Linked DNA regions of Homo sapiens: region 1 is linked to region 2. A link means that fine-mapping ties the variant in region 2 to the plasma level of a protein whose gene starts in the linked region. Region 2 holds a variant in brackets. A gene starts in the other region. All regions are shown on their reverse strands.

Region 1 (2,916 bases), not on the chromosome of region 2:
AAATAGCAAGACAAGGCAGGTCTTATTTTTACTGAAAGTGCTTAGTAAACTATACAGTGACAAACCACCGCACAACAGGCTCTCGAAAGGAGGCAGCAAATTACCCAAAAGTGCAGGCGGCTTGCTAGTGTGCACAGGCCAAAGAAAGGGCGGCAGGTGGGGAAGGCAGCCATGGGCCTTGAAGAGCTGACCGAATTGGCAGAATTTCTGCAGGAGGGGAGCTGGGAACGACCTGAGCTAAAGCTCGGAGCTGTGCGAAGAAACCGGAAAAGCCCAGAGCACTTGCAGGGGCGGGTGGGGAGCTAGATGGTGGGGTGGGGTGGGGACGGAGGAGGGCCAGCAGGAGACATTCCGCAGGGAGGGGCAAGCACGTGTGAGGCGGGCGGGGCGCGAAGGGTCAGGCTTTTGCTCAAAACAGGCAGAGGACAAGGTCAGCTCAGCCGCAGACCGAGCCGCTGGTGACTGTCTCCGCCACCAGGCAGTGAGAGTGAAGGGAGAGCGCGAGCTCTGAAGCCCGCTAGACTAAGCTTGCAATCTGAGCTCCATTCACCCCCTCCTATTTCTTGAGACCTTGTCAGTTCCCCTGTGAGCCTCGGACTCCTCACTTGTAAAACGAGGACAGATGCCCGTGCCAGAAGTCAACCAGAGCTTTCCCCGGCGTGGGCACCAGCCCAAGGGCGTTTTGCTTTTCTAGTCTCATCTCTGCTCTGACGCTAAGCTCAAAGAGGGACTGGGGGACGGGAAGATATCCACCATGGCATGCGCCCTAGCTCTCGGGCTGGTGTTGGCTGCTTCCTTCTCAGATTCCAGAGTGCCTAGAGGCCAGGAAAGGGAGAAGGTCCTACCAGCCTGGGGTAGGGACTCGGGGGCCAGGCACTGGCGCTGACGCAGGCTAGCAGGGCGCCACTGGCTGGTCCCCACCCACCTCGGTGGGTTGGGGGATGGGCGCACCAGCCCCTCCTGGGTGAGCCCTAGCCTGGGGCTTCCTATTTCGGGAGCCGGGGGCGTGGGCCACGTCTCCTCATGTGATGCGAGGGCTATTTAAAGCGGCAGCCCGGGCAGGGAGCCGCCGTCGGAGCCCTTGCACGCCTGCTCTCTTGTAGCTTCTCTCAGCCTAGCCCAGCATCACTATGGTGGACGCTTTCCTGGGCACCTGGAAGCTAGTGGACAGCAAGAATTTCGATGACTACATGAAGTCACTCGGTGAGCAAGCCGCGGGGCTCAGGATGTTGGCTTGGGGACTGGCTGGTGGCGTGCCTAGCCCCACGCAGCACTCCTGCCGCATCCCTCCTGGTTAAGACTGGGGAATAGGGGAGCGCGGAGATGGCAGCCTGGCCTAGAGCAGGTGGGGCCTGTTCAGAGGGGGCTTTGGTGGTCCAAATCTGGTTAGAGACCACGGTAGGGAGGTGGTGGAAGGAGGCAGCTGTGTGGGAGGCTCTTTCCAGGAAGAGGGATATGTGATTTGGAGGTAGGAGGAGGGTTTGGATAAAGAACACTGATCACAGGAAAGGGAGTGTAGCCAGGGGAGAAAAAGAACAGGGGCATGGGTAGTTTAGAAATTGGAGGAGACTGAACCCAGAAAGGGAATGGGGCAGCCAGGGAGTGTACAATGATGTAAACAAGTAGGAAATACCTAGGAGGAAAAAGATTAGTGGGGAAAAAACTGTGGATCAGTGAATCAGATATGAGAAGGACGTAAGACAGGAACCTGCAGTAAGCAGCAATCCCCATCTCTGCTTGGTTAGGGAAGAGAATTCTTGCTGGAGAATGCCCTTTCTCACCAGCCAGTCTGACCTTGTCCTGCAGTCTATGTATCCAGGCCTTCATCACTGTCTGTGAGCCTCGTGGTAGGGTGGGGCAAGAGGCCCATGATCAGCTGGGCCTTTCCTGCAACCCAAGGCTCACCTATCTGTGCGAGGGGTAGGCAGAGAAAGCCATTGGACTTCTGATGTGCAGTAGAGGGTCCCAAGGCAAGGTCAAGACCTGGGAGGGAGGATCACTGGTTTAGGAGGATGTGGAGAACTGCTGTGGTGTTGGGATGGAGAAGAATCAGGATTCAAAGAATCTCACAGGTGAGGAACTTGGAGATTCCCATACCATCTAGTTCAACAGGGAAACTGAAACCAGGAGAGTAGAAATGTATTATAACAATTCCACAGCAGAGCCAATATGAAAATCTAAGGTTTCTAGATCTGTAACCCAGAGCTCTTCCCACTACCCTACAGGCCCTGCGAGTGGGAAGAAAAGTAGAAACTGCTTAGCTAATGATTGACCTCAGCCCTTCTTCTACTGCTTTGGGCTTAGATGGAGAGGTCAAAGCTCTCAACGGCCTCTACCCTATCTTGGGCGCTATGCCCAGTAATTCTAGGCAGGCAGTCATTCTTAGAGGAGCAGCCCCCAGCCCCCACGAACACAGCCCAGCAGCTATTGGGAAGTTGGAATGCCCAGATTTAGTTCCTCCTTCCAAAGCTGGGCCAGAGCTGAGTCTTGAATTGAGCTGCAACAACTTTACCATTCTTGTTCCCTTATTCTGCCCCGAGTTGGGTCAGCGGGCTGGTCTCCCTGAAGTCCTGTTATCTTTCAGCAGCTTATGTTAAGGCAGCCAGCATTCTCATCGTAGGAATGGAAAGCCTGGGAAAATACCCTCCTCAGCTCTCAGTAAGTAGTGCTGGCTTCATTTCTAAGTAGAACCCAGATCTCCCTGAGTCTCCTAAATTCTGTCAGCTCAATATTCTTAGTTTCTCTTGGTTCAGACCCTCACTCATCCCGCAGTGGTTTCCTTTTCAAACACTCCATACCTCTGGGTAGATCCTAAGTGAACAGAGCTCCCAGTGCCGTGACAAGGTCCTGCTCTGTGCAAGGGAGTGTGATTGGCCTGACTCATCCTGATACCAAGGGGCAATGCCAAGTTCCTCA
Region 2 (2,905 bases):
TTCTCACATATAACAGAAGGGGCAATCAAGCAGCAATTTCTATAGTGGGTCAAGTCATGCTTTGAGGAGTAGAGTTTTCAGAGCCCAGCTTTAAAAACAGATTTTCCATAAAGCACCAGGTGAGAGGCAACTGTTATGTTTGAGTAGTTTTTGGAAAATATCGATTATCTGCTGCTATAAGGAAACATTCTGAAGGAAATGCCAGGGAAATAATAACAACAACTTCATTTGGCACAAGATAAAGATGTTTTCTCTATCTGGGCAACTCAGGTGCACTTACCTGCTTGTGTTATGTTCCATTGATAATAAGCCATAAATAAAACAAGC[T/A]AAGCCAACTACAGCTGCAAAGAATAGCATTTCTGTGTAAAATCCAAGAAAGACAAAATAGATACCAATTTTTTCTCCATAATAATTCCTGTGAAAAAGAGTAAAAACAGAATCAGAATATGGAAGAATGTTATAGTCTGGAGCCTTGATTTTGTATTCAGACAGGCATATATTCTAATTTTGGCTCCACTGCTTTCTAGACATGTAATTTTGGTGAAGTTACTCAACTCTCTAAACTTCAGTTTCCATATCATTATCATGTTTTAACACAAGATGGTGCTTATGCCATACTGCAAGGACTGATACAAGGATTAAAAGGGATAACAGATATAAGTAGAAAGCCAATTAAACGGAATTTAACTTTAAAATTTAAATAAGATAATTTGGAAAGCCTCTGTATTATAAAGAGAATTTAAATGGTTTTTAAATAAACTACAGAATATTCTACAATGTAATTTCTAGGAATGAACTTAACAAATCAAAACCATATCCAAAATCTGCATGGACTTTTGCTTTATCTCTCTAAAACTGAAAACATTTCTCTGACCGCATTGTAGATATACATTTCCATCTTTCTCCAAGTTTGAATCTTGGATGTTTACAGGATTGTGACATATGCAGCAGGCCAAGGAATTAAACATGACTACTTTAGCAAAAATTCTATGAAATATGCAGCCTAGCTCTTGGTTTTCAAAGAATTGAAAAGTGACAGCGTTTATCGGCACAACATTTTAATTCTCACAACCAAGTGTTTTGTTTTTAACTTAGTACCCATTTAGGAATGAGAGAAAGTAGTTTTCTCCTCCTCAGAAAGTCAGGTTTTCTTGTTGTTGTTGTTTAACCTGATTAATCTTCCTCCTTATTCATATAGATCCCAGCTCACCAAATCTGTGAGTCTTTCCACAGTTTCCTAGGCAGAAAGATGTGATACCTTTTGTGTTCTAGTAGCATGCCATATGATTCTGTGAAAGTACTTAATATTAAATTGTAATTTCTATATATGCTTAACAAGAACACATATCTGAACATAAAGGTTATAAACATTTTTTCTCAATGAGATTTTAAAATGTATTTATCATATTCAATATTAACTTTATTGAACATCCCATTCTTCATATTTCAACACTCTTAATATTAATAGGCATCTTTCTGTTTATCCTGTCTTTTTTCATTCTTTTCAGTGATGATGAACATTGTTGCATTGTTAATTTCCCTAATTTGGTTTTCCAGATCACTATAAACTTGAAATTAAATTATAATGCCATCATATTCCCTTGCTAATCTGCCATTCACAACTTCCTTAGCTTACTCAGAGTGAATGAACTTTTTCTCCCAGTTTTTTTCTGAAAAATGTAGAAATTATTGTAATAGTACATGACATCAAAATCAGAAAAAGTACAAAAATATATTTTATGAAATTTACTGTTTACCATGTCTATTTTTAATGTTTTAAAAATGGCAGAATCAATGTTATTAGAAATATAATATCAACATTATTGCTATAGACTTAACTTAAAAATTCTTTAAGTATTCATAAGGAAACTGGATATTTCAACAATCTTAGTTTTAAAGTACTACTTTTTTCTCCTTTTCAATTGTCACAAGTCTTATTCCTTGAGCATAAAAAACAAAATCCCTCAAGAACTCTAAACCTGTCAAAAAAAGAAATTGCTGAGAATTTACTAAATGAAATCAGGTAAGTATTTATTACATGTGGAAATATACAAATTATCTTACTAAACTTTGGACTTGGGTATCTAACAGTAACAGATTAACAACGAAATAATCTTTCAGGATCTCAGAAAGCAGGAGATATTTCTTAGATTTGCAATATGGTAAAAATGCATACATTATTGAAATCACATTTAATATTTAATTTAAACTATCTTGTTAGTCATAACTAAGAAAATAAGAGAAATCTAATAACATGAGACACTCTACAAAAGCTCAAATATAGGGAGAGCCTTCTTTTGAGTATTATTTTTTAGAAAAATATGCCATATATTTAAATCTATGATCTTTTTTAACCTGTCCATTTTAATTATTAGACTTTCAACTGATCTGTGGCACTGCACCATTTAACACAGCATCTGATAGGTAGATGTGTGTTAGATACTGTGTGAGGGGACTGCTCTCATTTTGTATTTCCAAGATGTAATATTTAGTTGAAGACATAGTAAATAATCAAAAGAATGATGATAGAATTAAATTGAATACAATCTTGATAAATCAATCAATGCAAACATTTTTTTCTAAAATGACTTATTTTTACAATGAATCCATAAACATCTGAGAAACTTAGCTTCAGTATTATCCTCACATTGTAATAACATTATCTGTACCACACATATATTTAGTCTATGCTATTTAGTATGTAGCAGTATTTCAATTTTGTTTCTAAGCATTAACATACAACATATGGATATCAAAAACAAATTACCTGAAGTGTAAGCTGGAAGGAAAAAAAAATGAGCTGATAGAGCTGATGTGCCAGTGATCAGTCTTCAACTTTATATGCTCCATCAGCCCATTTTTCTCAATCTTAGCATTGCCATTTTCCCCAAAAATATTATCTAAT

Direction of the effects. Positions count from the first base shown, and alleles are read on the strand shown. Strength reflects both the effect of a copy and how common the allele is.
For the plasma level of the protein whose gene starts at base 1,069 in region 1, A is the high allele of the variant in region 2 and T is the other (weak association).

Evidence for each region. A credible set is the group of variants that fine-mapping cannot tell apart. PIP is the chance, under the fine-mapping model, that this variant and not a neighbour inherited with it causes the effect. The UK Biobank Pharma Proteomics Project read protein levels with antibody pairs (Olink). The fine-mapping took linkage between variants from a reference panel, not from the people measured, so its PIPs are less certain.
Region 1: FABP3 starts here. The variant in region 2 is the best candidate, but not a certain one, in a credible set for the plasma level of the FABP3 protein (UK Biobank, PIP 0.61).

Annotation. Positions count from the first base shown.
Region 1 is chr1:31,371,229-31,374,144 of GRCh38, reverse strand. FABP3 (fatty acid binding protein 3) reads left to right here and starts at 1,069. Exons shown (of 4, transcript NM_004102.5): 1 at 1,069-1,203. The coding sequence starts at 1,131. RefSeq lists a silencer at 589-883.
Region 2 is chr11:22,247,747-22,250,651 of GRCh38, reverse strand. ANO5 (anoctamin 5) reads right to left here. Exons shown (of 22, transcript NM_213599.3): 10 at 281-415. Among named protein-coding and RNA genes, the nearest start is that of ANO5, 56 kb to the right of the region's middle. The variant T/A (reference allele first, on the strand shown) is at 328.